Homo sapiens: one gene and its partner. The protein of the gene in region 2 interacts with the protein of the main gene of each other region in a biochemical or structural test. Each region holds a gene or a part of one and is shown on either strand. Other genes may lie near its edges. The genes, in order: WWP1 and KLF2.

Region 1 (2,543 bases), on a different chromosome or scaffold from region 2:
TCTAATCCAGTAAATATCAGTAGCTATAATTCATATAAATAAAAGCTCTTTGCAGTTGGAAATCCATTTTTTTTTTCCCAAGATAGAGTCTTGCTGTGTTACCTATGTTAGAGTGCAGTGGCACAGACACAACTCACTGCAGCCTCAACCTCCTGGGTTCAAGCAATCCTCCTGCCATAGCCTCCTCAGTAGCTGGGACCACCAGTGCACGCCACTATGCCTGGCTAATTTTTTAATTTTTTGTAGGGACAAAGTTTTGCTGTGTTGTCCCAGGTGGGTCTTAAACTCTGGGCTCAAGCTGTCCTGCCTTGGCCTCTGAAAGTGCTGGGATTATAGGCATGAGCCACTGCTCCCAGCCAAGGTTGACAGTATTTTTAAGAGTGAAAAGGAGTCCTGTGACCAAAATTTGAAGACCTCTGCCTTCAATAAAAGTGATAGATCCATATGTATACACACATGCGCGCGCGTGTGTGTGTGTATTGAGAGAGAGATTTTTGAGTCAAAGGGAGAATTAAAATAGATTTCAAATTTTGTGAAAGGAAAGTAATTACCACCCACTGATTTCTGTTTTCTCAAAGTATAAGGAGAAGTCACTGGCTAAGAGTGAAGAAAGGAAAAACTTTTGAGAGAAAGAAGGAATTGGGAGAATTGTTAGAGAATAGGCAAGTATTCATTAGAGGAACACGGCTAAGATTGCTAGGCAAAATTGGATTGCTCACTTGGATTAGAGCATGAAACAAGTTGACAGCAAAGAGCATAAGCTTCCTTTCCCCACCACAGCCCCCTCCCCACCCATAGCAACTCGAAAGCAGCAAAAGTTTTTGAAGAGTGGCATAAACTGGTATGTCTTTTTAGCAAAAAGTAAAAAAGAAACAAAACAAATAGACCCAAAGAATTCTCTGATGGTCCAGGTAAGAGATGATGGGGAAGCATATACAAAGGGATGTAGTGGCAGTAGAAATGATGAGGAGGAGCCTGGGCAACATGACAAAACTTCGTCTCTACAAAAAAAAATACAAAAGTTAGCTGGCCATGGTGGCATGCGCCTGTACTCCCAGCCACTCCAGGGACTGAGGTGGGAGGAGGGAGGATTGCTTCAGCCTGGGAGGTCGAGGTCGCAGTGAGCCGAGACAGTAGCCTAGGCGACACAGCCAGACCCTGTCTCCAAATAAATAATCAGGAGAAAAAATGGAATATTTGGTAGATAGAATGACAGAATTTGGCAAAGGCTATATGTGAAAGATGTAAGAGAACAGAAAGTGACTGGTTGTCTTGTATAGGAAGTATTAAAAAATAATTTTTTTTTCTGACCTTGTTATCATACTCTACCTTGAAGTATAAAGGGGAGGGCAGTATATGGTCTGCTTAGTTGCTGCTATTAATATCTTTAACTTCATTTAAAATACAAAGAATACAGTCTTAGAACAGCACTGTTTTATTTAGATGCCTTGTTTCAAAGGCTCTTTCCTGACTCTGACATGGGAGGGTCAAGGGCACATGGAAAGTGGTGACAGTGGTAAGAAGGCACCTGGATAATCTCTAGAAACCTTCCACATGGGAAAATGAAGGTACAGAAGGGTTCTGACTTACTCAGGGCTATCTCACTAGTCACTGCTACTGTAGGGACCAAAACCCTGAACACCCGAATCCTAATCTAGCTACTCAGTGCTGTACCTCACAAAACGAAATGTTATTCCACCTTTGTAAACTGAAAAATAATAGTTATTTTAAGCATTTTTTAGTATTTTAAAATTTTTATCAGTTAATACCAGAATGGAATTGAGTATGGCAAGATTGAAAAAGTGTCATTTTAGAAGAGTTTATATATGTGGTTAGATTATTTGAAAAGACAAAGAAACATATATATTTGTTAATTGACTGTCTCTACCCCAGAATGTAAATTCCATGAAGACAGGGATTTTAGTTTTCTTCACTGTATCACTAGCTTATCAGTTATATAAAAAATTCTCGGTAAATGACTGATGAATGAGTGACTGAGTGGATGAAAGAAATGGACTCTTATCCTAAGAGAAGTTAAGAGGACTCATGACACATGTAACAGGAATAGTAAAAAGAAAATGGATTTTTTTTTTTTTTTAAATTTGTCTTTATCCATATTGCTACACTTATTATTTGTAATTCCATTTTCCTCTTGGAGATGTTAAAATAGTTTTTATATGTAAGTCTTAAATTTAGATTACTCTAAATACTTCTGGCAAAATTTTAACATATATAGTATACATATATCCATTCAGCATTTCTATGTGCTTTGAAAAGTATTCTATTAGATTTTTTTCATTTTATTGAAAACATCTGATTTTGTTTTTGTTTCTGTTCAGTTTTAATCGCTTGGATCTACCACCATATAAGAGTTATGAACAACTAAAGGAAAAACTTCTTTTTGCAATAGAAGAGACAGAGGGATTTGGACAAGAATGAATGTGGCTTCTTATTTTGGAGGAGCTCTTGCATTTAAATACCCCAGCCAAGAAAAATTGCACAGATAGTGTATATAAGCTGTTCATTCTGTACAGTGAATTTTC
Region 2 (4,360 bases):
CAAAAAAATACAAAAAAAAAAATTTAGCCAGGCATGGTGGTGTGCACCTTGTAATCCCAGCTACTTGGGAGGCTAAGGCAGGAGGATCTCTTGAGCGCAGGAGTTCGAGGCTGCAGTGAGCTGTGATTGCACTACTACACTCCAGACTGGGCAACAGAGGGAGACCCTGTCTCAAAAAAACTCAAATGAATAAACCTCTATCCTTCCCTCCTTCACTAAAGTGGAGGTCCCCTAGGGCAGGGATCTTGTCTATCTCTTGGTTACTGTGTCCCCAGTGCCTACCCAGGGCTGGCAGACAGTTGTAACAGGAGTGACAGTCCCTGGCCAGCAGGGATATGGTGTGGGGGACAGAGGTGGAGCATTGAAGGGACCCATTGGGCAGCATTGTCCTCTGATGCCCCCGATGCTGGAGCTGTATTGGGGGAATGACTGTCATCACCGTCCTCTGAGTTACTTAATTCATTTATGGAAGTCAGTAAAGGAACCCAGCCTGCCTGTGCCTGCCGCAACTCCAACTTCTCCCAGCCACCTCTGCCTCAGTTTCCCTGCACTTGACGGGCTTATTGAGGTTGGGGAGGAGGGGGTGGGTGTCTCAAATGTCAAAGATTTAATGTGTCTTGATGTTACCACACAAAAGTTTTGTTTTGTTTGTTTTTTTGAGACAGTCTCCTCTGTCACCCAGGCTGGAGTGTAGTGGTGTGATTGTATCTCACTGCAGCCTCGACCTCCTGGGCTCAAGCGATCCTCCCACCTCAGCCTCCCACTACACCCAGCTAATTTTTTTTATTTTTTAAGAGATGGGGGCCACTGTGTTGCCCAGGCTGGTCTTGAACTCCTGGCCTCGAGTGATCCTCCTGTCTCAGCCTCCCAAAGCGGTGGGATTACAGATGTGACCCACTGCACCAGGTCTACACAAGGTGTTTTTTTTTACAGGGTGATGTGCACACGGTGGGTCCCTCTGGGTGGTCCCACAACAGATGAGGGGCCCAGCCTCACCCATCCATGAATCCTGGAGACTCCAGACTTCCCATCCATCCAGGGTTCTGCAGCCCTCTCTGAGGCTGGAGCCAATCTCCCCTTCCGTCAAGGGATCCGGGGAGACCGCCAAGCCCGGTGCTCCCCTGAGAGTCTCTGAGAGGCCCCGACACCGCCCCCGCTCCAGGTCCCCGGGATGCTCGCGCAGGCGGGAGCCCGGGGCGCCCGGGGGATCCCTGAGCGTCACGCCGCTGTTGTGGAGCGCGTGTTGACAACGTCGCCGGGGAGACGGGCGGGGGCGGGGCCCGGGAGAGGGGGAGGCGCGGCCCTGGCGGCGCGCGAGGGGCCGGGCTGTCAGCGCAAGGCCCAGGCCGCCGCAGTGGCCACGGCCGCTGCCGCCCGCCGGCTTATATACCGCGGCTAAATTTAGGCTGCGCCCGGAGCTCGTCCCCATCCGGGACGCGTTTCCGCCGCCGCCGCTTTGGCCCGGCCCCCGCGCGCGCCGCGCCTATAAGGCTTGGGCGGGCCCGGCCGCGGCCCACAGAGCCGTCCCCGCCCGCCCGCGCCCCGACCAGCCCGGCCTCGGGCAGCCACTCACCGGTGTCCCCGTCCGCGTCCTTTCTCCCCGGGTCCCGGCCATGGCGCTGAGTGAACCCATCCTGCCGTCCTTCTCCACTTTCGCCAGCCCGTGCCGCGAGCGCGGCCTGCAGGAGGTGAGGGCGGCGGGGACGGCGGGGCGGCCGGGACCGTGGGCGGCGGGCTCGGGGTAGTAGAACGTGGGCTGCGGGGTGACAGGACGCGAAGGCGGGGACTGCAGACTCAGGAGAGGAGGATGCGGGCCACGGGGATCGCGGACTTAGGGTGGTAAAAGGCAAGCAGCGCCCCCCGAGCCCCGCCGCCCGCTCACGCCCATTGCCCTGTCGCCCGCAGCGCTGGCCGCGCGCCGAACCCGAGTCCGGCGGCACCGACGACGACCTCAACAGCGTGCTGGACTTCATCCTGTCCATGGGGCTGGATGGCCTGGGCGCCGAGGCCGCCCCGGAGCCGCCGCCGCCGCCCCCGCCGCCTGCGTTCTATTACCCCGAACCCGGCGCGCCCCCGCCCTACAGCGCCCCCGCGGGTGGCCTGGTGTCTGAGCTGCTGCGACCCGAGCTGGATGCGCCGCTGGGGCCCGCACTGCACGGCCGCTTTCTGCTGGCGCCGCCCGGCCGCCTGGTCAAGGCCGAGCCCCCTGAAGCGGACGGCGGCGGCGGCTACGGCTGCGCCCCCGGGCTGACCCGTGGACCGCGCGGCCTCAAGCGCGAGGGCGCCCCGGGCCCGGCGGCTTCGTGCATGCGAGGTCCCGGGGGCCGCCCCCCGCCGCCGCCCGACACACCGCCGCTCAGCCCCGACGGCCCCGCGCGCCTGCCCGCGCCCGGTCCGCGCGCCTCCTTCCCGCCGCCTTTCGGTGGCCCTGGTTTCGGCGCGCCCGGGCCCGGCCTGCATTACGCGCCGCCTGCGCCCCCAGCCTTCGGTCTCTTCGACGACGCGGCCGCCGCCGCGGCAGCCCTGGGCCTGGCGCCCCCCGCCGCCCGCGGTCTCCTCACGCCGCCTGCGTCCCCGCTGGAGCTGCTGGAGGCCAAGCCAAAGCGCGGCCGCCGCTCTTGGCCCCGCAAACGCACCGCCACTCACACCTGCAGCTACGCGGGCTGCGGCAAGACCTACACCAAGAGTTCGCATCTGAAGGCGCATCTGCGCACGCACACAGGTGGGCGGCACGCACGAGCCAGGAGCGCAGGCGGGGGGACGCGGGAGGAGAGGTCGGATTCCCAGCGCGCGCCAGAAAATGAATTTAGGACCTCCCTTGGGGCGTGGCTCAGGGGGATCTGGCAGGTGGTGCACGCTTAGGACTCCCCAGGAGGCGTGGCTCGGGAGGTTGGTTGGGGGGGCACACAGGAACACTCCCTAAGGAAGTGTGATCCGAGAGGTTGGGGTGGGGGCTTGCACGCTTAGGACGAGGGGGGCCTCCGGAGGTTGGGAAGAGCACTTAGAAAACCTCCTGGAGGCGTGGCTAGGGAGACAGTCTCAGAAAGTTGGGGAGGGGGAGCAGGTTTAGGAGCCGCTGGGCACTTGGCTCAGAATCCCCGGGGCTGAGGCTCAGGTAGTTGGGGAGTAGGTGCGCGTTTAGGAACCCCGGGGAGATGCTGCGTCTCAGGAAGTTGGGGAGGGCGCTCAGGCTTGGGACTCCTCTGGGGACAAGGCTCAGGACCTTGGGGAGGGAGTGTTCGCTGGGAAACCTTGAGAGATTCCGTGTCTTAGAATGCTGGAGAGAGGGTGCATGCTTAGGACCCGTCGGGGAGCGTGGCTGACAACAGTGGGGAGTGGACCTTGCGCTCCTCCGACCCCCTGGGGGTGAGGATCCGGATTGTGGGGGGAGTTGGGGATGTAGGGCAAGGATCCCTCAGGGGCGCAACACTACCGCGGGGAGCGCGTCAAGGCCCTGGTTAGGGATAGGTTGCGCTCGCCGGGGTAGCCATACGTGCCCTGTCCTGGGAGGGGAACTGACGCTTACTCTCGCCCCCTCCCTGCAGGTGAGAAGCCCTACCACTGCAACTGGGACGGCTGCGGCTGGAAGTTTGCGCGCTCAGACGAGCTCACGCGCCACTACCGAAAGCACACGGGCCACCGGCCATTCCAGTGCCATCTGTGCGATCGTGCCTTCTCGCGCTCCGATCACCTGGCGCTGCACATGAAACGGCACATGTAGCCGGGACGCCCCCGCCCACCTGCGCGCGGCCGTGGCGGGTCCCACGCGCCGGGCGCGGCCCCCTCCCAAACTGTGACTGGTATTTATTGGACCCAGAGAACCGGGCCGGGCACAGCGTGGCTACAGAGGGTCTCCCTCGATGACGACGACGACGACGCCACCACCCCAGCCCCCGTCTGTGACTGAAGGCCCGGTGGGAAAAGACCACGATCCTCCTTGACGAGTTTTGTTTTTCAAAATGGTGCAATAATTTAAGTGGCATCTTCTCTCCCACCGGGTCTACACTAGAGGATCGAGGCTTGTGATGCCTTGTGAGAAATAAGGGCCTTAATTTGTACTGTCTGCGGCATTTTTTATAATATTGTATATAGTGACTGACAAATATTGTATTACTGTACATAGAGAGACAGGTGGGCATTTTTGGGCTACCTGGTTCGTTTTTATAAGATTTTGCTGGGTTGGTTTTTTTTTTAATTAAAAAGTTTTGCATCTTTTAAAAAAAATCACAGCACTGGTCTGGTTGCTTGGAACTGGGGCCTTGGGGCACTTGGGAGGAGGGGGGAGCGGAGAGTTTGATGGAGGGCAGCCCCACTAAAGCATCGTGTGCAGTGGGTCCTGCGTCTGCCAGCACCGGGACTG

The links.
Region 1: the proteins of KLF2 (region 2) and WWP1 form a complex in vitro, tested with the Homo sapiens proteins (one study listed by BioGRID).

What each region holds. Positions count from the first base shown.
Region 1 is NC_000008.11:86,464,455-86,466,997, forward strand, and holds part of WWP1 (NEDD4-like E3 ubiquitin-protein ligase WWP1), read left to right. Parts: intron 1-2,339; coding exon 2,340-2,439; 3' UTR 2,440-2,543. UniProt on the Homo sapiens protein: E3 ubiquitin-protein ligase which accepts ubiquitin from an E2 ubiquitin-conjugating enzyme in the form of a thioester and then directly transfers the ubiquitin to targeted substrates.
Region 2 is NC_000019.10:16,323,311-16,327,670, forward strand, and holds the start of KLF2 (Krueppel-like factor 2), read left to right. Parts: upstream 1-1,515; 5' UTR 1,516-1,613; coding exon 1,614-1,688; intron 1,689-1,905; coding exon 1,906-2,722; intron 2,723-3,545; coding exon 3,546-3,721; 3' UTR 3,722-4,360.